3 separate regions of the Homo sapiens genome follow, and all the other regions are linked to region 1. Evidence: fine-mapped expression QTL. A gene starts in region 1. Each other region holds a variant in brackets. All regions are shown on one strand. Distances are from middle to middle.

Evidence for each region. PIP is the estimated chance that this variant, and not a neighbour inherited with it, causes the effect.
Region 2: its variant is the best candidate, but not a certain one, in a credible set for the expression of EXOSC7 in monocytes after triphosphate RNA (Kim-Hellmuth 2017, PIP 0.83).
Region 3: its variant is the best candidate, but not a certain one, in a credible set for the expression of EXOSC7 in whole blood (TOPMed, PIP 0.80).

What each region holds. Positions count from the first base shown.
Region 1 is chr3:44,970,957-44,981,747 of GRCh38, reverse strand. It overlaps EXOSC7 (exosome component 7), which reads right to left and starts at 5,504. Exons shown (of 8, transcript NM_015004.4): 1 at 5,414-5,504. The coding sequence starts at 5,470. It overlaps ZDHHC3 (zDHHC palmitoyltransferase 3), which reads left to right and starts at 5,574. Exons shown (of 7, transcript NM_001135179.2): 1 at 5,574-5,815. RefSeq lists silencers at 5,538-5,607, 5,728-5,827 and an enhancer at 6,050-6,594.
Region 2 is chr3:44,904,391-44,909,390 of GRCh38, reverse strand. It overlaps TGM4 (transglutaminase 4), which reads right to left. Exons shown (of 14, transcript NM_003241.4): 10 at 2,191-2,442. Among named protein-coding and RNA genes, the nearest start is that of TGM4, 32 kb to the right of the region's middle. The variant TTTTG/G (reference allele first, on the strand shown) is at 2,077.
Region 3 is chr3:45,023,805-45,034,595 of GRCh38, reverse strand. CLEC3B (C-type lectin domain family 3 member B) reads right to left here and starts at 8,293. Exons shown (of 3, transcript NM_003278.3): 1 at 8,125-8,293; 2 at 3,671-3,769. The coding sequence starts at 8,233. It also overlaps the pseudogene RNU5B-3P. RefSeq lists enhancers at 1-149, 6,912-7,411, 7,412-7,913. The variant A/C (reference allele first, on the strand shown) is at 5,660.

The DNA.
Region 1 (10,791 bases):
TAGGGTGTTGCTATGTTGCCCAGACTGGATGCCAACTCCTGGCCTCTGGTGATCCTCCCACCTCAGCCTCCCAAAGGGCTGGGATTACAGGTGTGAGCCACTGCACCTGGCCTATCCCTTTTCTTGAGATAATTGAAAAATCCCGATTCCTTCAAATCAAAAGAGGTTTAATTCTCAGGAGCCACAGGCTGAATCTTTAATGAGGTCACTATGAAGGCTGGGGATCTAGTGTGGATGGTTTAAGACAAAGTCACACTTCTGATGGAAAAACAAACTTGAAAGGGAGCCAGCATTTTTTCTGTGTTAACCACAGCCCAAGTGCTTGACATCTCTTATCTCATCATTCCTCATAACCCCATTCTACTTCCAGGTGCATAAGTCCCCATTTTACACAAGGGAAGCAGGTTCAGTTATGCAAGTAAAACCACTTATTGTAAATGGTGAAGGTGCCTGCTCAGTCTGACTCCAAAGCCTCATTCAAAAAGAGGCAGGAAACCATATGACTTCAGCAGGAGAGAGCAGAGATTTCTTTATCTCTGGTCAGTGGCTTACCCATGGGCCAATGTCTGGTGGCTGCCCCCAAATTTCCCAACACTTTATGATAATGTCCATTCTCAGGCCCCAGCCCCAGAGAGTCTGATTCAGAATGTTGGGGTAAAGCCTCAGAATCTGTATTTTGTAGGTGAGTAAAATGCACTTCAAGGCTTCAGAATCCCTGGGCTAAGAGGGAGGTTAGCAATGGCTTCTCATGGATGAGGAAAACACACATCTAGCCCAGTAAGCCAGAAAAGAGGATAAATCCTAGATTCTAAAAATTCTGAAGTCTGCTCCAAGTTCTGCATGGTATGGGCAGAGTAAATCGTTTATGATACTAGTAAGACAAAAGCTATACAAAGAAATGCAATATAGGGTTCTAAAGGAACTTATACTCAATGTGGGAAAAATGCAACCAAAACAATACAGCAGTATATGCCATATACTATTTAAGCTCTAGAAAAACTGGGGAGTGGGAGGTGTCAATTAGAACTTTCTCTTTCCCTTCCAGTTTCCCCACAAGCTTTTAGAGAAAGGGGGAAAGAAAAGGAGGTAGAGGAAGCAAAGATTCTCTCCTGCCTTGATCTCTGGATCCCTACTGAGGAAATGGAAGAAATGACTTTCACTGCAGCAGGAAGGTGGCCTCAGAGTCAAGTATGGGCTTTGCAATCAGACAGGTCTGGATTTAAATCCCAGTGCCACCACTCAATTACTGTGTCACCTTGACAAGCGACTCAACCTGCCCGAGCTCAGTTCCTCATCTATAGAGATAACATTTACCTTCAGAACTGTTGTAAATATTCAATGAAATAAAAATTATAATATGTACCTAATAAGAATGGGATATAGCCTTCAAAGACTGAAAGAGAACCTAACAGAAACCAATCAAATTATTTATCAAAATACCGATTTAATCCACCTTTTTGATTCTCTGTTCTCCCCTGGGAGAGGGGATCTGTTCACCAGGTTGACTCAAATTGTATCACCTAGACTCCCTTTGCTGGCTTCTGGTTGGGTTTGTCCAGTGGAAGATACCAGATCAGAGGGTGCCCCTCACCCCCAATCTAGTGGCCACATTTCTGATAGTGCCTGCATCTATCGAAGACTATGACTTATGTTGGGCAGCCCTTCCTCCACAGTTCCAGCTATCACTGAAATGTGGTAATACTGTTTCCTCCCCTGGCCCCTTTGGAATAGGGGCAGTAGCCACTCCCAGTAGTTGTCTTGGGGCTCCTCAACATCTCTTATTGGTTCCCTGAAACCCCCCCCATACTGCTCTAGAGTCCCATCATAAAAGTCTCCTGAACTACCTGAAGAGGGTTCCATTTTCTGCCAATAACTAAAATGATCCACCCTCCCTTCTCACAAACTGACTTCTCCCAAGTGTGACACATCCTCTAGTGGCCATGTTTGAGCCTAATTATTCTGTCCATCCTTTCCCTCAACCCCCTAAAAGAACTAGAGTTTCTTTCTCTTGGAAACATGAGTTCAGAACTGAACGAGAAGGAATGGTCTCTTTTACAGAGGAACTGGGAAGGAACCACATTTTTTCTACCACTGGCCCAAGAAATAGAAAACCAATCTGTAGGGAGACAAAAACAAAGCAAAGAGGGGGAAAAAAAAAACCAGCAGAGATTAGGATTCCTGGAGAAACACTTGCAGCCTTGTAATCCATACTGTTTTGCTTGAGCCGATGTGTTGGTTACCATTACTAGCAACTGAATCCTCAACACATCGTGAGGTTAATTTCAACTGCTTCTAACTATCACCAAAACAAGATGAAATATTCCCTGAAATAGTAAAAGAACCAAAGGCTGAAGGGAAAGTGACATCAGAAGCTGAAATGGACGTTACTGGACCAAAGGTGAAAAGTAAAACACAAAATGACTAGGACTATACAAGCAACAGGAGTTCAGGCAGGCACTGCTTAAGGTGCACTGCCGGCACTCTATAACCAACGCAACAAAAGTTTAGGAGATTTCAGAACTGAATCAGTTGAGATTCCATGGTAGGCTCATTCACCTGCATCCTGACCTTTATTTGGATGGTGTAAATTGTGTTTTGCTCCTCTATACATATGGCATATTTTGGGCCAACATTAATAAGCCCTTATGAAGACGTTGATTTGAAGCCCATTACTCTGCATGGCTCTGTGATACACAGAGCTGAGCATTTACCAACAACTGTGCCCAAATATGTCCATGGTACTGGTGAGAGGGAGGTTTAATTTAAAAAATAAAAACACCATCCAACTCATTCCCCCTTTAAAGCTTACATCACCCATTCAATGCTACTAAGAACCTACCAAGTGCTAGACACTGGCTATGCCTTAAGGGTCCCCCATACAGACAAGTCAACAGGCTATTGCCTTCCAAGATCCATGATGAGCGAATGACTGAACCTCTAAGACCTCTAGGATCGTGCTTCTGGCCACCTCTGCAAGCTGATCTTCCACCATTTCCCCCAGCCCACCCCTTGGGCTCCACATGTCCTCCACCTGAGGATTTACAGACTCACCACCCCTTCCTTCTGGAACACTGGTGCCTACTTAATTCTCAGTCATGCTGAGAACTCAGTTCAAATGCTATTTCCTTAGGGAAGCCTCCTCTGACCTCCCAGTCTAGATCGTGTCCGTTTTTTCCTTCATAGCATTCAGTACAATTTTATATATAAACACTCAAGTACATTTATAGTTTCTGCATCTTCCTTCTAGCATGAGAGCTATATAAGGACAGGTTCCTTCCTAGCCCCTGAGTCTAGCTCAGTTCTGTGTTGAATGAATGAATACTGAGTCCTGAAGATACAGAGGAGGAATCCTTGACATGGATTTAGGGGAGCAATTCCACCTCCTTAGGGAAGCCTTCAGAGCATTACAAGTCCCTGGAATTCTTTTTATTTATTAAAAAAAAATTATTTCTTTAGAGATGGGCTCTCACTGTGTTGCCCAAGCTGGTCTCAAACTCCTAGGCTCAAGCAATCCTCCCATCTCAGCCTTTCAAAGTGCTGGGATTACAGGCGTGAGCCACAATGCCCGGCCCCTGGTATACTTTAACTTCAACCTCCACTAACTATACCACTTCCTTGGCATAGATCTTACATTACCTTTGTTTTTATTTTATTCACTTTTACTCTCTGTTTGTCTCCCTCCTATCTTTCATTTATTTCACAACCATGTTTTGGCATCCCTGCTGTTTCCCACATAACATGCCAGGAGCTAGATATATGTTGGTAAATAAAATTAACTAATGACCATGGTGGGACTCTGCTGCTGGATAGCTAATGAACTGCCGTGGGAATTAAGGGTGCTGGGGAGAAAGCTCTAACCTTGAGGTTACAGATATATCCATGCCTCAGTGCCACTTTCAGGGATGAAATGTTGAGAGAAAATAGGACACATGACAGAGTCACTACATCATGGTAAGCTCCGGTAACAAAGAAGACCAAAGGTTTTTAAATTTAGAGGAAAACGGTTATCCGTAATGTGTCCCTAAAAAAATACTTTGAGGATAAAAATCACCTGAACAAAGTGTATACAAAAATATAGCAGGGAAAGACATATCTAACTGCTTTTGGGCATTTTTATGCCCCCTCACACACAAATAACATACATGTTACCCTGTAATACACACATATGTCCCACTGTTGTTAATCCTGAATTATAACTAAAATATGCAACTGTGAGTTCTGACTTTATTATCCAGGCATAATATGCTAAATATTGGCATTTCTTCATATATAAAGGGCCCAGAAGATAACGGCAGGTCACGATTTTTAAATGGACATGTCCTTAACTCACGTTGTGGGACTTCAATGATAGCTGGCCGCTTCAATCCGATGGCTACATCACGGGACCACTGACTTTGCAGTTGGTACTGACAGAGGAAAGGCATGAGGAAAAGAGGTAGGAGCTGTCGCCAGAACTCTGCCAAGGATGGGATGAAGAACTCTGATAGGAGGACCACACCGTAGGTTAACAAGTGGAGACACAGCCGGAGGAGGATACAGGGTAGCTCGTTACCAGGTCCAACATTTTTCAACCCTCGTTCTGGAGTGGTCATAACCAGGGATTTAATATAGAACACAGAGGACATTAGGTTATAGCTGCCTAGGGATCTTAGTTCTTCATTGGCAAAATGGAAACAGCACTTAGGCTATCGGCTGCCTAGCCGCTTTTTTTTTGAGACTCGGCTCACTGCAACCTCCGCCTCCCGGGTTCAAGCGATTCTCCTGCCTCAGTCTCCCGAGTAGCTGGGACTACAGGCGTGCGCCACCACGCCCAGCTAAATTTTTTTGTATTTTTAGCAGAGACGGGGTTTCACCATGTTGGTCAGGACGGTCTCTTGACCTCGTGATCCGCCCGCCTCGGCCTCCCAAAGTGCTGGGATTACAGGCGTCCTAGCCGCTTTTTAAAAACCCTTCCCCCTTTATTTGTACGGCAATTTGTATTTTCAAAGTGCGTTCACCTCGCATGCGCCCTCCTAACCACGAGGTGAGGAAAAGCAGGCCAGAAGCCCACCTCCAAACTCCCATTTCCTCGAAGAGAAAACTGAGGCTCGGACAAGATCTGTGCGCGAACGCCGAATGGATGGCCCTGGGGCCGATGCTCTCTCACTAAGAAAAGGCCTCCGAGACTGCCCAAGCTTCCTGCCCGGGTTCGGAATCTTATAGACCCGCAAAACTGCAAATGCGCTAACAGTCCTAAAAACGTCCACGTTGCCAGCTCTGAATTGCAAACGCCGGCAGCAGAACCGTTTAATCACAAGGTAAACGGAGAGTCGCCGCAGCTCGGCTGCCTCCTCACTGGCAAACCCAGGGCAGGCCGCGACCCGCAGGGCCAGGCTGAACCCGGCGGCCGACCCAACGCCGCTGCTGTAGCTACCTGGACGCCATGCACGATGTACACCTTCTCCGCCTCGCTCAGCGTCACGGACGCCATGCTGCCGAGCTGCCCCACGAGCCGCACGTCATCTGCGCGCGTCCCCTCCTCTGGACCGCGCCCCCACGTCCCACCCCCCCCCGCCCCGCGTCAGCGCGTCATCAACCTGCGCGGCGGCCGCTCCTGCAGCCGCGGCCGCCGCCACTGCCGGGAGAGCTCGATGGGCTTCTCCTGCGCGCCGCCCGGTGTCTGGCCGAGTCCAGAGAGCCGCGGCGCCTCGTTCCGAGGAGCCATCGCCGAAGCCCGAGGCCGGGTCCCGGGTTGGGGACTGCAGGGGAAGGCAGCGGCGGCGGCGGCGGGAGCCCCACCGGGGTCTGGGACTGGGGAACTGCCTCCGGCTTCACGGTCAGTTGGGAAGGGAAACTGGGGTAGGGGTGAAGAAGCTGGGGTGAGGCGAGCCTCACGGGCCGGGGGACTCCCAGTGGGAGAGGCGTGCGGCGTAGTTGCTCAGAGCTGGAGTTGACTTAGGAGCGTGTGTGTGTGTGTGTGTGTGTGTGTGTGTGTGAGAGAGAGAGAGAGAGAGAGAGAGACCCCGACTAAGGAGGGGCGGACGTCGTGATTGGCCCGGGGGTGCTGTTTCCCTGCTCTTCTCCCCTCCATTTCTCTAGTCCCTAGGATGGCTGGAGAGGCGATGCAGCCCTCCCTAGGTAGTTCTTGGTGGGAAGGGTCCGGGAATGGGGGACACTAGTCCTAAGGCGTCCCCACCCCTCCACCCAGGAATATCTCTCGCTGGCTCGCTCACTCTCTGTGACCGAACGCTGTCCCATTACCTTGCTGGGACCTCTTGCCTCGGGTGCTTACCAGAGCGTTGTCCCACAGACGGGGGAGGAGGCGCTTGGTAACCGGCACTGGCGAGGTGCGCAGTGCCCGGACGTCCCCAACGCTTCCTAGCGGGAACTGGAAACCCCGGCTTGATGGAAGTGATTACTGGGAGCTGTGAGCAGTTGCCCGAAAAAAAGCCAACCCCAACCCCTTGCGATGGCCGAGTGGGAGTATGGGCATTGGATACCCGGAGAGGATATCTGCAAGGTGAAGCTGGGGTCACCAAAGGAACTCATTAAGGCGGGGCTGACAAAGTATGGTGCAAGTTTTAAAGGAGCCGTGTGGATAAATGGGAGAAAGTTAACCCAAATTAGTTGAAGCAAGGAGGGCAGGTTAAAGCAATTCTGATGACTTTCCTGATGTTCCATTTTTGAGGACCCTCAGCCAAAAAAAAAAAAAAATGGTATTTATCAGATAGTGGGTTCAAATACAGTTTCAGATAACTATTGGGAGCCTACTATAGATAGGCTTTGTGCTACCTTTAGAACACAAGACAAGTAAAACATACTATGCCCAGAGAAGTTCCCTGGGCAGATGAAGGCTCCAGGGCCAACATAACCACAGATCATGGTGGTTAGAGCTATGATGGTCGCATCAGTGGGCACAGTGGGATTGGGAGGTCGTCTGATAAGGTTATAGAGAGGAAGTGCTTGCTCACATTCTTAAGCATTAAACTGCTGAGCTCCAAAATTGATGATCAGTTCTTCGTAGACTGGACATTAGATGTTTCTTATGTCTCTACGTAATTCTCCACAGGGGCACCTAAAAGGAAGACAGCTTGCAGGGTTGGACTTTGCCTTCCAGGGAAACTGAAAGAGGTGAAGCCGGAAGGATTTCCTCCCTAATGAAGGCACAGGTGCCCCACCTGTTGTGGCACTTAGATGTGTTTGTGTGTGGTTGGACGGCTGGGTTTTATGTGAGGAGCTCTGTTGTGATAAGATAACATGAGATTGCTGATGTTATAAATGATATTTTCTAGATGTGCTAGAGATTGCTCAGAAAGGAGAGACCCTGGAAGTGGGATTTTAGAAGCTAGGATATCTGAGGAGACTGAGGATTTAAGAGGTGACAGCAAATGGACAGATCAGAAAGACACAGGAAGAAAAGCCTGAGTTCAGATACCATGGAGTTATCTTTATATAAAGATTTTCCAATGTCTTAAAATATAGAACATGTATTTGAACTGTCCCCCCCTCACAATTGACGGGAATTCCATACTGGACAAGGGTCTGCAGTATTTGCTAAATAATGTTATGAACGATGTCTTATATATTAGGCTAAGTAGGTAAGAGAGATGTAAACAGTAGAATGTTCCTTTTTAAATTGTCTACTAAAACAATGACAGTCTTCACTAATCATTCGGCTTAAATGCTGCCAGAACATTTTTATCACCTTTGCTGTAATAGTGCATTGGACGTCTTTAAAATCCATAAATTCTGAGTTCTTTTTTAGTGTATTGAAGTAATTCAAAGAACATATGATAACCAAAAAAATCAAGAAGTCAAGGATGGCACAGTATTAAACCGTCTTGTTTTTCCATCACTATTAGATTCATTTATTGAATGAATAAATGAATTGGGGCATACTATTCTGTAGGTTTGTGTATTCTAAAACCTTATACTCTAATTTTCAACACTAATTTACATAGTGCTTATTGTATGCCAAGCATTGTTCTAAGCACTTTATAAAGATTAACCAGGCTAGGTGCGGTGGCTGACATCTGTAATCCCAGCACTTTGGGAGGCCGAGGCCGGTGGATCACCTGAGGTTGGGAGTTTGAGACCAGCCTGACCAACATGGAGAAACCCCATCTTTACTAAAAATACAAAATCAGCCGGGCATGGTGGCGCATGCCTGCAATCCCAGCTACTCGGGAGGCTGAGGCAGGAGAATCGCTTGAACCCAGGAGGCGGAGGTTTTAGTGAGCTGAGATCACGCCATTGCACTCCAGCCTGGGCAACAAGAGCGAAACTCCATCTCAAAAAAAAATAAAAATAAAAAATAACTGATTCAATCCTTGCAACAGCCCTGTGATGCAAGTATTCTTATCCCTATTTTACAGATTGGGAAATGAGGCACAGAGAGGTTAAATGCCTTAACCAGGGTCACAGGTTACATCATTGGTAAATGGCAGAACCAGGACTTGAGACCAGGCAGTCTAGCTCTCCTGCCCATACTCCTAACCATCACCTTACACAGCCTCCCCCCAGGTTTTATTACATTCACCAGATTATTTGGTGAAGGAAATCCCAATTTTGTTATGGCGTTGGTAACTGTCCTATGAACTATATAGTTAATCTTAATTCCAAAAGCAAGAAGTCTGTTCAAGCATAAACTCATATCCCTTGAATCATTTTTCTAGAGGAACATGGAATGTGGTGCTGATGGGATGTTGCTGTGTCTGTTGCAACCCAATATTTTAAACAAGGTAAAAGGTTATATATGAGCAGAATAAGAGCTTAACTCCAAGTAGCTAAGGAGAGAGCCCTCAATGGCAAAGATGGCTGATAGATCTGGTACTAGGGTTGAGTAGCATGCATGGAGACCCAGATTCCAACCGTATGCCATACTCAGATATCTAGAAACTCCAGACAGTGTGTTTGCATGCCTGTGAGTCCCTGGTGTTCTTATGGGCATAAAGAGATAAACTCAAAACACAACACCTGCCTAAAAGTAGTTTAGAATTTATTATAGTGGGGGAGCCCAGGACCTCGAACTACTGCATGAACAAGACAATAAAATAAAGTGCTCAATTGAGACGTGGCAATTAGAAGAGAGGCCAGCCTATAATAAGGTGCTAATTGTGCAGGCCAGGTATCAAATACAAAAGGTAAAGAGCTGCTGCTAGCCACAAGCCGGCAACAATAACATGACAGAGATGGAGTAACTCTGTCCCACCCATCCTTGGTTAATTAAACCAATAAAAGCCAGTTACAAAAGAGCTTCAGGGCAATGCTGAGTCTGTGGTGCTGATGTTGCAGAGAGCTTTTTTGGAGACAGAGTCTTGCTCTGTTGTCTAGGCTGGAGTGCGGTGGCACAATCTCTGCTCACCGCAACCTCCGCCTCCTGGGTTCAAGCAATTCTTGTGCCTCAGCCTCCCGAGTAGCTGGGATTACAAGTGTGTGCCACCACTCCCGGCTAATTTTTGTATTTTTGGTAGAGACTGGGTTTGGCCATGTTGGTCAGGCTGGTCTCGAACTCCTGGCCTCAAGAGATCTGCCTGCCTTGGCCTCCCAAAGTGCTGTGATTATGGGCATGAGCCACCATGCCCAGCCATAGAGAGCTCTTAAAAGCCCAGCAGGAAACCTTCTGTTCCCAGTCCTAAGCAGACATGGCCATGTTTTAGGCCTTTTCCTTTGCATTTTCACCATTAGCCCAGCACCCTTGAAATGTACAAAGTCAGTTACCGTTTTGCCTGTAGATCTGTTTCCTTTAAACACTTTGCATTTGTCCCGCCTGTACCTTGTCTTAAAAGAATGAGGTGGGAGGATCCCTTAAGCCCCGGAGTTTGAGTCCAGCCTGGGCAACATAGACCCCATCGCTAAAAAATAATAAAATAAGTAATAAAATAATGATAGAAATGAAGAATATCTGTAAAGAATACTGTCATAGTCTGGCCAGCAGGTCTTCATCTGTCTTCTAGACATTGTAACTTGAGATTACAGTGATAGAAAAATTGCTAGTAATACATGGGTAAAGCTTACTCTTAATTAGAGGAAAAGTTATACAGTCTTCATGTGTGTTTCATTTTGGGAGAGTGACAGCATGTTTCCTATGTCTCATTAGGGCATATTTGAGAAAAGGGGGTAACAGATCCTGCTTACCAAATGTAGAAATATTTAAACACACACACCCTGATAGCCATGGAAAGTAACAAAGTCTCAAGTAGAAGTGGAGGGGTGATGTCTCAGTGTTGACCTGTTGGGGAAAAAATGAGGCTCATGCCATGCTGCCTTTAGTTCCTTCCTGTTTTGCATTTTAAAAAATCATTTGCTTTCCTCCTCGGAAGCAGATTTCCAGAGACAAATGGCCAGTTCATTCATGGCTGTCAACTGTGAAGGTGAGAAGGCTCCAGGTGCATGTCCCACTTAATTCAGTCATACATCCTAATACATTTGGAATGCATGGGAAATGTCATCATTTCATAGTCTCCTCCAAACCATAGACTTCGTAGTATGTATTGACTTGGCACTTGAACTCTTGGCAAGATATGAATATGTATTTCCTATTCAAGGTCAGTGGAGATGCAATGCCTTTGAGTGAGATCACTTTCTTACCTTAGCAAGGTAAGCCTAATGAGACAAGTACAGTTCTGGCCACAGTCCTGTTGCAGTAAAGTCTTCAGTATGTGAAGTGTATGTTTCTAAACCAAGAAATAGTAGCAGAGAATCTAGAAAGACAGGTTGTTTAGGAAGATAACAATCTATGGTAGAAAGACTTCCGGGCATCTTAGTCCAAAGATTTGGGCTTTGCTATTAACTTGCTTTATGACTTTGAAC
Region 2 (5,000 bases), 69 kb after region 1:
GGAGTTGAGGGGAAAAGAAGCCGACCAAAAAGCTTAAAAGGAAAAGCTGAGGGACAAAATGTCCACGGGGGCTTTGAAAAGCTCAGACAGATTCCTGGAAATCTAGAAGGTCTGAGAAAGATCTGATAAGGCTCTCACCTCTAACTGACCTTGAGGCTCAAGCAAGAAGTGAAGGCAGAATTGTAAATTGCCTGCCAGAGCATTGAAATGTACCCTAACTTGTACACAGAGCCCCTTGCCAAAGGCTAGGAGTCTTAATGATTCAAGGAATTTAAAGCAATATCCATCTAATCATTAGCTGACCATTCAGCAAACTGAGCAGAGAATTCAGTGGTCATGGACAAGAAAGATTATAGAATTTCTGGAATTATATCAGAGAAGTTGTTAAACAAATAGCAACCACAAAAGCAACCCTGGGATGGGGGACAGGATCTGATTTCCAGAGTTGCCATATTATGTTCTTTAAAATGTCCAATTTTTAACAAAAAATTACAAGACATGCAAACAAACTATAGGCCATACATGGTGGTGTGGGGGTGGCAGGGTAGGAACATGGAAACAGTCAATAAAAACTGTCCCTAAGGAAGCCCTGACATTGAACCTACTAGACAAAGACTTTAAATTAGCTATTTTGAATATATTCAAAAAACTAAAAAAAAAGTGTGAGAACAAATGGCTTGCCAAATAGAGAATATCGAGAGAGATTAAAATTATTTTTAAAAAAGAACCAAATATAAATTCTGGAGTTGAAAAGTACAATAATAGCAGATTAGAGCTTGCAGGAAAATCAGCAAACTTGAAGACAGGTCATAAGATTATCTAGTCTGAGAGACAGAAAGGAAAAACAATGAGGAAGAGTGAACAGAGCCTCAGAGACCTGAGGGACACCATCAAGTGTAGCAGTTGACAGACACCACTGGTCTCCCTCTCTATCCTTTCCCTCCCTCCCTGATACTTCTGTCACCCTGCAAAAAAAACAAAAAACAAAAAACAAAAAAAACAAAAACAAAAAAAAACACTCCTGACCTAATTGCTTTTAATCAAGTTTGCTCATTTTCAACACAACCCTGAGGATAAGATTCTATTTCAGAGATAGCAGCTGTAAGACAGGAATTTCTGAGCTTGGTTACAAAGCTCTCCATCCACGTCCATTCTGAACACAAAGAGACTTCAAAGTGGAGAGCTCCAGTTTGTCCTGAGCTGCCTTGGTAGCCATCAATCACTTGCCTCATTTATATGGAAGAAATATTTACTGCAGGCCTACCTTGTACAAGGTTTTACACAAGCTCACAATCAACCCAGGGGTCCAAACTGACCTGCTTGTAACTATACTGCAATGGAGGGTGGGAAAAGCCCCAGCTGCATGGGTACCATCTGCCATCCCATAGCATAGCAAATTGCTCCCTCGTCTATGAGTCCTTACGATTTCCTGCCTTCCTCTTAATCACATCCCATCTTCAGTTTGCCCCTGTCTGGACTCTTGCACCCTTTGAGGATGCTATATGGAGTTGTCTTCCTTTCCTTACCACGTGGTACAGGAACCACAGCCAATGGGCCACAGGGGAAATACAAATCTGTCAGATTGAGGAACATCAAGAACAGAGGCAGCGTATGAGCCTGTGGATAGTAGAGATTGCAAAGGAGACAGTTCAGTTAGGGAAAGCATAAGCAGAGGTTTGGCCAGGGGTGAAAGTAGCCAGCATTTTCAGGTAACAGCAGGCAGCATGGCTAGGGGATGAACTTAAGCTCAGGAAGGGAGCCAGAGGCCAGCTCTGCAGGGGCCAGAAAGCCAGGCTGAGAAGATGTCTAATTTACTGGGCACTGGGGAGAACGGACAGTCTTAGCAAGGTGAATGAGCTGGTCAAACAATGCAAAGGCCTCAATTAGGATTTGTCTTTTTGTTTGTATGAGACAGGGTCTTGCTCTGTCACCCAGGCTGGAGTGCAGTGGCATGGTCATAGCTCACAGCAACCTCAACCTCCCTGGCTCAAGCAGTCCTCCCACCTTAGCCTCCTGAGTAGCTGGGACCACAGGCACATGCCACCACACCCAGCTAATTTTTTTTTTTTTTTTTTT[TTTTG/G]GTAGGGATGGGGTTTCACCATGTTGCCCAGGCCCACCCCCAATCTTGACTATTTTCATGTTCTGGGTGACTCAGGGGCTGAGTCAGAAGGAGCCCTGTGATGCTAGCACCTTCTGGATACTTGTACTCATAGGTGATATCTCTCCGCCTGTCTTGGCCCACTGCCTTGGTGCTGATGTTTTTCCCGATGCTTGTGGTCTCCATTGAAATTACGTGTAACTCCTCCTGCCCATTCACCATCTTCACCAACCAGATGAGCCTGTCACCATTCACTTCTGAGAAGACGAATCTGGTGTCATAGACAATAAAGATGTCACCTTTGCGGATGGCGGTCAGTGGTGATGGCCCACAGCAGAAGACACCTGAGGGGAAGCCAGGGGTGGTCACTCTCAGTGGGGTTCCCCAGCCCACCCAGCCTGGACCCAGTGGCAGCAATGATTCCCAAACTCAAACAGGACTGGCAAGCAAATTTTGCCCAAGAAGCATCTGGGTACTCATTTCCTAGGCCATCCTTAACTATTCTGAAAAGAGGGGCACATCTCAGCTTTGACTTGAAGAGTGTCAGGAATCCTCTGTCCCAGTAATAGGAAGTCATGCTGCCTATTAAACTCATCCCAGCACATCAGTCCCCAGTAGAGCACAGAGACACACAATCTGGGTCTGATTCCTGGCATCACACCTTGGAGCTATGTGACCTTGTGCAAGGCATTTCAGCTCTCTGTGGCTCCATTTCCTAGAAAACTGGGAATAAAAACAGCACTTACCTTCTAAGGCTATTGCGAAGATTAAATTAAATAATCCAGGCAAAGTACTTAGCCCTGTGCCTAAAACAAATGCAAGCTGTTGCTATGGATCTGGGCTAATAAGAACATTTCCATTCTAAGAGCTGTCTATTTATTTATTTATTTATTTTTCATTTTTGTTAAGAGCTGTCTTTTTATTTCTAGCATGGGGATAGAGAGTTCCCTTATTAGTCATTGACAACTTAATGAGAATTAGTCTCTTGACTGATAGTTCCTCAGTAGTAGCTTTGGTTTTTACATACCCTTGTATTCTGGGCATTGGGCTTTCTGCTTCCACTATTTTTATTTAATCCTCAACACACAGGCTCCTCTCCCTTGCCTCTTTAAGGCAGCCAAACCTGTGAATTCAGTGTATTGGAGGACTAGGACTCAGGAGAACTGGTCTCCTAATCTAATACTGGTTCTTCTCCTAACTTGTTGACTGAACCTGGGCATCCCCACCCTCCCTCTCTGGCCTTATCTATAAGGTGAGCAGGTTAGGTGGGCTTTTAAGGCCCCTTTTCTGGCCAGGGAACAGGGCTTCCTCTGCCTCTCAGGCAGATAGTGGCACTGCGCTACTCACTGCCTGGTTGCTATGGCTACTGTCCCACCTCAGCAAATGCTACTTAGACTCCCTGGATGGAAAGAGCCCTCAATACTGCCCTGCTGAGAATCTTCCTGCAGAGTATGCGGGGGTGTGGGCATATCACCTGCTCCTCCCACCTCTGGGGGCCACCTCCCACCACCCTCACCCCCTATTATAAGGGCAATGCCTTATCTTTGGAGAAATGTGGAGGCTGTTTTCACTTTTAACAGCATTTTTTTGCCTTCAGGGCCATGTGGGCTCACATTGCAGCTGGAGGAATCAGGAGTCTCACACTGATGGGTGGAGCCCGCAAAGTATGTTTAAATTGTAACCTGAATGCCTTTGGGGATCTGCATGCTCATGTCTCTAGGTCCCCATCTTCCCAAGTAGACAGCCCTGTTCACTCTCTGGCCCTGTGGGCAGATGAATTTGCTATCCTTGGGATGAGGCTCACAGCCAAACTAAGACTTATTCCTAGAAGAACCTTGAGAGACATCTACTTCAGGGGCTGCAGGAGTGAGGCAGAGATGTCAGGGAGGGGCCGGCTGGTCCCTGGGCACACTTCAGCTGGAGTAGTTCTGCTTTACATTATGAGGTGGCACACGAAGTTTCCTTCTGAGCAGTTGGACTGCTTTTTTCAAAAAAAAAAAAGTTTGAGGCTGGGTGCGGTGGTTCACACCTGTAATCCCGGCACTTTGGGAGGCCGAGACAAGCAGATCACCTGAGGTCAGGTGGTTGAGACAAGCCTGGCCAGCAGGGTGAAACCCTGTCTCTACTAAAAATACAAAAAATTAGTCAGGCATGGTGGCAGGCGCCTGTAATCCCAGCTACTCGGGAGGCTGAGGCAGGAGAATCACTTTAACCTGGGAGGCAGAGGTTGCAGTGAGCCAAGATTGCACCATTGCACTCCAGCCTGGGTAACAAGAGTGAAACTCCATCTCTAAATAAATAAATAAATAAAGGCCAGGCACAGTGGCTCATGCCTGTAATCCCAACACTTTGGGAGGCCAAGGGAGGTGGAGCACGTGAGGTCAGGAGTTTGAGACCAGCCTGACCAATATGGCAAAGTCCTGTCTCTACTAAAAATGTAAAAATTAGCCAGGCATGGTGGTGTGCACCTGTAGTCCCAGCTACTCAGGAGACTGAGACAGGAAAATTGCTTGAACCTGGGAGGCAGAGGTTGCAGTGAACCGAGATTACACCACTGCACTCCAGCCTGGGCAACAGTGAGATTCTGTCTCAAAATAAATAAACAAATAATTTTTTAAAATTTGAGAATTATTGAGCTAATCTATTTTCCCTTTACTGGGCTGACTTTGTCTTTAGTACTAGGACTCACTATTTAAAATAAAGATAACTTGATTCCACAGATTTTCCAAGTAACCTCAGACCAACCCCATGCCTCTGCTTCCCCAGCTGTACAAAGACACCCTTGTCCCCCGGCAAGGTCCTTCCAGCTACAAGGGGCCACTGTCTTACCCAGAAGTTGGTAACCCATAACCAGCTGAGATAAGCATCCCCATTATGTCTGACTTGGGCTGAATCCTGGTCC
Region 3 (10,791 bases), 53 kb before region 1:
CTAGACATACTCTGATTTCTCCTGAGATCGTATAAATCGTTCACCTTTTACTAAAGATTTCTGTGGAAAGGAATATCTTGACAGACAGGTGTATGTCTGCATTTGTCCTCTTGCTGGTGACCCCACCACTTTGGGGGATGTCTGCACTCCCCTCTATCCATTCCCACTCAGTTACTTCCATTTCACTCAACAAATATCAATGGACAGCATCCCAGTGTCCCCATGGGCATCTGACACCACAACCGACTTTAAACATGGGGCCTGAAGCATTACAGAGGTGTCTACCCACAGACTCTGCCCCAAGTCAGCTGTCCTACCTCGTGCTATCCTACAGCTTAGCCAAGCGGCCTTCATTGCCTTTCCTTCCTGCTGGTAACACTGACGTGCTACCTAGACTTTTGTTGGGGATGAAGGATTCACTGCCCTGGCTGCCAGGAATGCTGCAGGAAGAAAGTCCTCAGCTTTCAGCCTCCTGCAGGGACTGCCTCAGCAGAAGACAGCCATCTCTTCCAAGGCCGTGCCCCTCCCTAGAGCAGCCTACACCCAAGACTGACCCATAAGCCCTCTTGCCCCGACTCAGGACAGTGCCGAAGGGTCATCCCGTCATCAGGGCTCCTGAAGTCAGCTGAGGCTTTCGTGGCACCACAGTACAGCTCGACTTCTCCTTCTGCCCACTCCTGCTTCCTTCCATCCCTTCCCTAGCACAGGGGTTGATCCTGAGGGTATCTCCTGATAAGTCTCCTGTGGGTTAAACTCCATCTCAGAGTTGCTTCCTAGGACCCTCACCTGAACCTCCCTCCAACACATAGGTAGTCCTCAGTCAATGCTACTTCTCGTGATACTATCATTGCTGCCAACATTTTGTTGCTCTGGTCTATTCATGATCCTGTCGATTTATGCTAGTCCTCCACACCTCTGCTCCTGCCCTGCCATCTGCTTGGAATCAACCCTCTTTATCTTCTCTGATTCCTACACAGCTTTCAAGGGCTCAAGTGATTCCATGAATATATTGAGGTTCCCAGGGAGCAGGGCCCTGGCTGCATCACCTCTGCCTCCTTGTGCCTGGCAGAGATGTACCAGGTGGGAACCTCCCATGTGTATGCTGGTTGGAGGAGGGAAAGGTTGCCCCCTGATTCCTTCAACTCTGGTTAGGTCAACAGAGCTCTGCAATGCTTTGGGTGGGTTTATTGAAAAGGTGATCTTTGGGTTGTGAGGACAATGAACAGGAGAAGGCCCCAAGAAGCCCAGCAGCTTCCTAGAAATCAGCAGACATGGGGGCTTTCATATGTCATGCTTTGGGCCTCCATATGTCATGAACTTTTTTCAGGGAGGTCCCCACCTCATTACCTCACCCCAGGTGGCAGTTGATGCCTGGGTTACATTGACTTTGCACAGCACAGAGCTTAGACATGAGAGAGACCTTAGAGTTTACCCTGCCTACCTTACAGATGAGGAAACTGAGGCTCAGAGTGGCACTGGGCTCATTCTAAACATACCCGCTGTGCCAGGCACTGTTGCCTCCAAATCCCTTCTCTCTTGTCCACCTCCACTATAGAGGCTGGAAAAGCTACATTCTTGCATTCTCAGATGTTCTTAAAGCTGCAGGTGGCCATATGATAGATTTCTTGTCAATGAGATGGAAGTGGAAGACTACGTTCCCTATAAATGAGACAGATGTGGTTGGGCTACTCTTCCTCCTTCTTGCCTTGAATGCACTCATGATGCCTGGAGTTGGGGCAGCCATCTGAAGACCATGAGGTGAAACTTCTGAACAAAAACTTATAACTACCTACTTGCAGACTTACTTTTTGTTTAAGCCACTGATAGGTTTCCTATTACATGAAGTCAAAAACACCTCTGGAGATGCTCCCTTTCTCGAGCACTCTCTTCCTACCTGCCATGCCAAGCAAGCTGTCCAAAGTTACATGTTTGTCCTTCCTTCAACAGAGATTGACTGAGTGTTGCTATGTGGCAGGCACTATGCTGGGCAGGGTAGTGGAAGAGACAAGGGCAATGAAAAGCAAACATGGCCCTTGTGTTCTCAGGGCTTACTATAGTCTAGTGGAGGCAGCAGACACAAATCAGGAAATGAGTGTATCATTACAGACTGCAGTCAGTGTGATAAAAGAAAGGACACTGTTCTGGGAGAGCTTATAACTGAGGAGCTGATTGAGATGAGGGATTAGTGACTCCTGAGAAGATAATGCTGGAGGCATTTATTAGGTGGATCTTGGGGGAGCAATTCAGGTTGCCCAAACAGCACATGCAAAGGCCCTGTGGTGGGAGTGCAGAAGGATGGCAGTGTGAATGCTGAAGGAAAGCATATGAATGGGAGGGAGTGTGTAAAACCATCCGGTGAGAAGGCTGTTGGGGGTTTCTGAGGAGGCAGGCGGGGAAGGGAAGGCCTTGCAGATGGATGGGCCTTGGTCACAAAAGCAACAGGTAAGAGAGTGGCTGTGGACACAGGGTGGTTTATAGATTTGCTGAGGAGTCAAGGTGATTTCCCAGCTGATAACTCGAGGGGCAGCATAGCAGAGCTAAGTGAGGCTCTGCTCCTTTCGGCTGTCACAAGGTCCTTCTCGGTGGAAAATAAGGGTGAGGATGTAGTAACAGGACCACTGCACGGGTGTGCTGTGAATGAGTTAACGTGCATCAAGCATCAAGAACAGTGCCAGAATGTAGTGGGCTCACATGTAAATAGTCATCAGTATTGTGAGTCTGCATCAAGCATCAAGAACAGTGCCAGAATGTAGTGGGCTCACATGTAAATAGTCATCAGTATTGTGAGTCTGTGTTCTCCATAGAATGGAAGGTGAGGTCATATAAAGGTAGGTAAATCGGAGGTATGTGGAAAATGCAGACTATATGACAGGAACATGGGGAGTGAGAAACAATAGGCTGCCAGGTATGCTGGCCAGAGGGCATGACCTTACCATGCGCCTGGGCCCTGTTCTTGGTGATTCTGTGCACCCTCCCTCAGCTGGCTAGTGCAGAGCCAGGAACACCAAGGCCCAGCTTGGCACTGGGCAGCCTGCCTCCATTCAACTCTTGCTCTTCCACGAGTCAACTAACCAACGAGGTGAGTATGAGCCAGGTTCAGGACCTGTCTATGCCTCAGTTGCTGCTGACACATCTTTAAAATGGAGCTGACATTTCATGGAGCTGACAGCTCATCTTTAAAATGGAGCTGACAAATCCCACCTCAGCAGAGTTACGATTAAGAGAGACAGGGTCAGCAAAGCTGCTGACACACAGGAGTGTGGAGCTCTCTGGGGCTGCAGAGGCCAGCTGAGTGAGGGGCTCCTGGGAGCTTTGCTAGGGTGGGCCACTACCTCTGCCCCATCGAGCGCTCCAGGGTCACTTCTGGTGGGCAGTAGTGGATTCTTGTTGGAGAATTTTTTGTCCTCTTGGGACATCCCCACTTCCACACCACCCAGCTGTGGCCAGAGATTTGGCCGTACACATCCAGGTGAGTTTTGCAGACACGTGTCAGGGGATCTCCCCAAGAGAAAGAGGTGGGGCTCCCTGAACCTGGTGCCTTCACCCATAGGCCTGGACTAATGGAGCCAGGACCCTGATGCTGAACGGAGGCGAGAAGAGCATTGCTGGCTGCTGGCCTGGGCCCTTCTCTCAGACGCTCCTGCCCAGAGAGGCTACTGCCTGCACTCACCCGTCTGCAGGGCCTGCTGCTCCTTCAGCAGGGCCACCTCCTGGGCCAGGGTGTCCAGACGGCTCTTGAGCTCCTCAAACATCTTTGTGTTCACAACATCTGAAGCAGGAGGAAATATGTCAGGGTGGGGCAGGGACTGAGCAGGAAGGATCCTACCTTAGCTGCAGAGGGATGAGAGGAAAAGACTCCCCTCAACCTTGATATCTTGGGAAACTTTCTCTCTCTCTATCCTTGCTGGTGGTAGTCTAATTAACCACTTGTGACTTCTGCCAGGGGGCCCATCCTTCACTTGCTCCTGTGCTGCATTTGTTTGGGATTGTTGCTGGGGATCAGATGGGGCTGGGATTAGCAGAGGCAGGGGTGAGGGTGTAGGCACAGGCTTCAGTGATCCCCCACCACCCAGCTACCTTTTCAGCTCCAGGGAAGAACAGCACAGGAAGCACAGCAGGAGCCCTCAAGAAGCCCCCAGGTTCACTTCCCCAGGCTGGAGGAATGCGACACAGACCAGCAGGCACTCCAGCCTGGGGCACGCATATGCAGGGCTTGGAGGTGCCACAGACACGGGTGGCCTGGGCGAGCTGCTCAGCCTCTCTGGATTTGGTTCCCTCATGTATGAAGTGGATGATGACAGCCCCACCTCCTAGGACTCTGGAGAAGACTAAGAGAACTGAAACGCAGAGCTGCCTACCTCAGTGCTTGGCTGAGTGTGTGCCCATCACAGCTACTAATAAGATGAGGGCAGAAGGAACCCAGGTTTTCCACTCTTACAGAGGAGGCCAGGCTCTGGGCTAAGCCGTTCTACATGTCACCCCATGTGATGCTCATAATCAACCCTATGACACAGGTAACGTGTCATTCTGTACCACCAGCATTTCACCATGAGGAAACCCAGGCTGCCCTAAACCAACTGGCCGAGGATGGCAGAGCCCCAGCTGGCAGGGCTGGCCTGGAACCCAGGTGCACATGGCTCTGAAGCCATGCTCTTCCCCACCTTCCCCATGGCACACAAACGGATTCCTAACAGGAGCTGTCCTGCTGGCAGCCAGTCATGTAAGAGTCAGCAGGGGAAGGCGGGGAAGCATATTTCTATGTGTGTGTAAGTTGAGGGTGCCGGGAAGCATATTTCTATGTGTGTGTAAGTTTAGAGCTCCTGGGGCGGACCCTGGTCTTTCTGAAACACCAGGGCTTCAGGAAAGGCTGCACTCAGCTTGGGGAAGTGGGTGGGGAAACACTTTAATGGTCCATTTGGCTGTGTCTGCATACATTCCACACTCACAAAGAGTGAGATCAGAGCCTTCGTCCACCCATAAGGTGCCTTTGCAGAAGAATCACAGGCAAGACACATGGTTGTGTATATAGAAATTAGCGATGTAACTTACCAAACTGGAGCAAAAACACCCTGATGAGCAAGGCAAAAAAAGGGAGAGTTTGGGGCTGGCAAACCAGCCTGAGGTCATGTGTGCCTCACACAGAGACTGCCTCCACCAGTTATAGCAGCACTGTACCCAGTCACGTGATGTACCAGCATAGGGTGCCATGTGAGGCTGTGCAAGGGGGCACTGAAGAAGGGCATTCTGCTGAGGGACACATGAAGGCCCATTTGTCTCCTAAGCCTTGCCCTGGCTAGAGTGGGTCAGACCAGAAAAAGAGATGCCTTTCTATAATTTGTCAGTTTAGAGGAGGTACCTTTTGTAATTTGCACCAAGGTGCCCATATGTGCAAAGTTTCCTCCAGGGACTGTCCAAGGTACAGGAAGCTACTCTCATTAGCTCCACCTGAGGAAGCTGTGGGAGTAGGTGTCTCTACGGCCCTGGGCAGAGTCAGGAGGCCTTTGTGCTGGCCCACTCTCTGAGCCTCAGGTTCCTTCTGCGTGATGTTAGAATGGATGCCCTCCAGGTTCCCCCAGTTCCCTGTTCTAAAGGCCTGTGACTCCTATGAGGCCATCCTTCCCTCCGGAGCTTCCCTGCCAGGTGTGACCATGTGGCCCCA[A/C]GAACAGATGAGCTCCCAGAAGTACTCTAGGCTCCCCGCTTCTCACCCACCCTGAGGGCCAGGACAAGGACTTAGCATATGCTGGCATTCCCTTCCTTTGCCAGTCCTGCCACTTGCTCTCCCCCTCTTGGCCCTGGCACCAACTGGTCTCCTCTGGCATGACCGTCCCTTCTTTGGACTTTCTCCCGTACTTTTGGGCACCAGCCCTGCAACTAGATTGCCCCTGAGATTCTCATTCCTGGCTGCTCCTAGGAATCCCTGAAGACCTGTGGAAAAGGCAGATGCTAAACTCACCAAGATCCCTAAACCAGCATTTCCAGGGGTGGGGCCCAAGCACCTGAATTCTTAACTTTTATTTTATTTATTGATTTATTTTTGAGACGGAGTCTCACTTACTCTGTCACCCAGGCTGGAGTGCAGTGGTGCAATCTCGGCCCATTGCAACCTCCACCTCCCAGGTTCAAGCAATTCTCCTGCCTCAGCCTCCTGAGTAGCTGGGACTACACGTGTACACCATCACACTCAGCTAATTTTTGTATTTTTAGTAGAGACAGGGTTTCACCATGTTGGCCAGACTTGTCTTGAACTCCTGGCCTCAAGCGATCCTCCCACCTTGGCCTCCTAAAGTGCTGAGATTACAGGCTTGAGCCACCACGCCTGGCCAAGGCACCTGGATTCTAATGTATCTCCCAGATGATGTTGATGCCTGAGTGAGAACCACCATGGTTCATGTCTTAAGAGCAGAGACGGTGTTTCTCTGCTGTGTGTCCAGCATATAGACTGGTGCCTACGTGGAGAAAGAGCTCTATAAGTGCCTGCCATGTTGGTGGGCGGGAGACTGCCATGGGTTTCAGCGAGAGGCAGGGCCTGGGTGGCTGTTCTGTTGGCCTGTAGCCCTGGAACTCCAGGGGCCCCTTCTATGGAGACCACATAGGGCCAGGGTTCAAGTGTGACAGCTGGAGAGAACCAAGGCATCACGTGCTCTGACCCTTTTTTTTTTAACATGAGTTTAAAAAGATTTACATAATTATATTAATACTGAATCTTTGGTAAACTTGAGAAGCTGGCGATGGTTTTCCACATTCAAAAATTCTATGATTTGCCTTTGGAGCTGCATCTTTTACAAAGGCTCTCCCTTGGTGGCGATTTTGGCTAATGCTCATAGACGTAACTATGCACGGTATTGTCTTCTCTTTTTAAATGAACATTTTGTGGAAGGTAATATACACACATAATTTTTTAAAATCCAAACAGTTCAAAAAGCTGGTTTCTTTCCCAGTTGAGACTGCGCCCAGCCCCTGGTTTTTCTTCCCAGAGGTAATCACTGTTACTCACTCTTGTGGATCCTTCCAGAAAGAACTTATGCACATACAAGTAAAAATGTATTATTATATAAATCCCTTTTTCAAAGCAAATGTCAGCATCATACTCATTCTCTTTTGAATGTTTCTTTTTTCACTTTGTAAACTGAATCTTGAAGATGATTTTTTTATCAGCAGCCAGATTTGCCCCATTCTTTGTCACAGTGTTGTGAGGCCCCATGGCCCCGATGTCCCTTTATGCACTGCACTAGTTCCTGGCCAGTGGGCAACTGTCCATTTATGAAGAGCCCCGGGAGGGCCTAAGGGAGGCCCCCACAGCCCCTTCTTTCCTTTTCTGTGCCCTTGGTCCTAGCTGCTTGTTTCTCTGCCTCAGTCCCCACCCTCATCCCCTTGGACTCTCTTCTAGCCTCTGCTCCCTGGGGGGGTGACAGCCCCGTCCATTGCCATGACATTCCACTGATGTTGTCTCAACACAGCCTGGGGTGACCTCACTGCAGGCGGGGCTGCAAGGGCAAGTCTTGCTGTAGCCAAAGCAACCGAGGGACACCCCAATCCCCAGAGGCTACAAAGCAGAGCAAAGCTGCTTCTGGTGGACTAGTCTGAGTTACATTTATTTCCTGAAGGCTGTGATATGCTACAGAAATGAGAATTCATTTCTTCTTCTTTTTCTTTTCCCTGTGCATCAAGCAACAAGTGAGGTGCCTTTATATATTTTGTATCATAAAATCTTCATGAGAAGTCTTTGAACAAATACCACTGTCCCCATTTTACAGTTGAGAAAACAGGTTGGAAGACTCCAAAGCCCAGCCTGTGCAGCTCTCCCTGGTAAGGGCTGAGCGCTGCCAGACTCCCAGGCCAAAGGTTTGGTTTCTTTAAAATATTGGGGATGAGGGGAGGAGAGAAGAGCAAAGATCAGTTTGGATGATCTGGAAGGTTCTTCCCAACTCTAAGGGTCAGGGATTCTTATGATTCTGACAACCAACTCTGCTATGAGAGAACTCCCCCAAGCCCCAAAGCCCACTTTACTCAAGTTCCCTAGATGACTCAAAAGGAGGAAAATGAAGGAAAGGAGCATGAGGACACACTAAGGAGAGGGGGACCTGCTCCCTGGAAGATGGCACAGGGCTCTGTCCCCCTCCTTACCTTTCTTGGCATTTACAATCTTCTTGGGCTTCTGGGTTGGTGGCTCGGTGGTGACCTGGGTCAGGAGGGAGAAGAGGCAGAGGAGGAGGTAGGCCCCCCAGAGCTCCATGCTGCTGCGCGGGCGGGGGCTGCTGCTGCCTGCAGCGGGTCTGGGTCCGAACGCAGTGACAGCCACGGCCCAGGCTGCACGTCTTAAGGCAGCAGCCAAAGGACCTCTGTCCAGGAAACCCTCCCCAACTTGGCTGCAGGCGTGCCAAAAAAATAAAACAAACACACAAGCCTGCAGAAGGATGAAGTCCTGAGGGCCACAGAGCCTCTCTGCCAGGGAACACCCACGCAGCATCCTGGCCCTGCCTTCTAGAAAGAAGCCCTTATTTCCTAGGATTCTGAGAAACACACGGTGGTTGTCATCACATCTGCGGAGCAGCTACCTTGGGTAGGGGCTGAGGCTGGCTGTTCACTAACATTAACTCACAGAAGCTTCACACCCAAACCACGAGGGAAGCACTGTCCTTTCCCCATTTTACCATTGAGGAAATTGAGGCTCGGTGAGGTTAGGGAATTTGCCCAGGCTACCCAGCTGTCACGGGGTAGCAATGCCCCCTTATAGGGTGATCTGGGGCTGGCTGTCTGATTGGTTTAGAATATTTGTTATGATTATTTTGTGGCTCTGTCTCCATGTACTTGATGCATTTTTTGGTTAAAAAATCCAAGGGATTCCTTCCCTTCTTGTCTTCCCTTTCTCCTGAGTCCTGTCCTAAAGCCACAAAGTGGGGCATAGCAAAGGTGGCGGAGGGAGAAGCCATCGTGCCCCAGAGGTACCAGAGAGGATGTGGGGAGAATGTGCCCTCAAGGGGTGGACTGGTGTGGGGTGTGGGAGCCCAGCAGGGTGGAGGGAGCATCCTGGGGAAAGCAAAGGCCCTGCCTGGAGTGCTGGAGTCCAAGTGAGGCAAGGAGGGGATCCATGTGGGAGAGAGGCTGGTGGCAGAGACGGGAGATTGGTTACACACAGGGATACTGATCAAATAAATCTACTGAAGACAGTGGGAGTTAGGTTTCCTATTGTCAGAGAAGGAAGTTATGTATATGGAGAGAAAACTGGAATGAATCCTGTTGTGTGGGATTAAAATCGGAATGATCAGTGTACCCTTGTGGCCTTGAATACATAAAGATAAGTCCATATATATAGATGGAAATGTGTGTGTGTCTAGTCCCCACAGTCACTGGGGGGCCTGGAGCAGCCAGCCCCGCATAGCCTGGAGCACTCCTAGCACCTGAATACTGGCTTCTGAATATGACTTTCCACTAAAGGAACCAGAGCACCTTGCAGAAACGGCTGATTCTAGCACTGGGAAGTAGGAGTGGGGTGCAGAAAATGAGCCCGGAACTTGTTGTTTTGCCAGAAAACAAGGAAGTGCTTAATGAATAATGGGAACACGTCAGTAGGACACAGAGCCAGCTTGAAGGAGCCTTCAGTGGTCAGAATCAGGGACAATTTGAGCACCAACATAGTGACAGTAACAGATGGGAAACCACCAGTGCACACAGATATAAGTAAGTAAGGGAACGCATTGAAAGTCTGATGTTCTTCAATGGGATGTTTACATAGCCTCAAAGTATCTGCCCACAAAACACTTATCCATTCCAGAGAGAAAAAGAGCAACTTCATGGTGAAGAAGGCTGGCAGACATCACCTCATCTGTGACCAAAGTAAACATCAACAGGGCCAATAAAAAGCTTGCAGCACCTGGGGGGCTGCAGTGAGAATGTGGCATCACTCCATAGGACTCCGGCCAGAGAGACATCAGACAATCCCAAATGGAGGAGCATTCTGCAAAATGACTGCCAGTAATTTTCAAAGCTCCTGGCTGAGGAAGTGTTTCAGGCTGAAGGAGACTGAAGACACAGAACTAAATGCAATATGTGATTCTGGACTGGACCCTCCATTCTCAAGGATGCAGTTGGGACAACCAGAGAAATCTGATGGGGTCTGAGGAGCACACGGCAGTGATGTGTTGTCACATGCTGCATCATGACAGTTCAGTCAACAACAGGCCACATATGTGATATGCTTCCATAAGATTATAATGGGGCAGAAAAATTCCTAACACCTAGTGATGTCACAAAGGGTTGTAAAGTCATAGTGCAACTCATTATTCCCAAGTTTGTGGTGATGCTGGTGTAAACAAATTTACTGCCAGTCATATCGAAGTAGAGCATATAAGGTCATGTTAGCACATAATACTTGATTTTGTTAGTCCGTTTTCACACTACTCTAAAGAACTGCCCAAGACTGGGTAATTTAGAAAGGAAAGAGGTTTAATTGATTTACAGTTCCACACGGCTGGGGAGGCCTCAGGAAATTTACAATTGTGGCAGAAGGTGAAGGGGAAACAAACACCTTCTTCGCAAGGAGGCAGGAGGTACAATGAATGCAGGAGGAACTGCCAAACACTTATAAAACCATAAGATCTCATGAGAACTCACTATCACAAGGACAGCATGGGGGAAACCACCCCCATCGTTCAATGACCTCCACCTGGTCTCTCCCTTGACACATGGGCATTATGAGGATTACAATTCAAGATAAGAATTTGGGTGAGAACATAGTCAAACCATATCATTCTGCCCCACATGATTGTGCTTTGAAATGTGAGAGCATGAGAT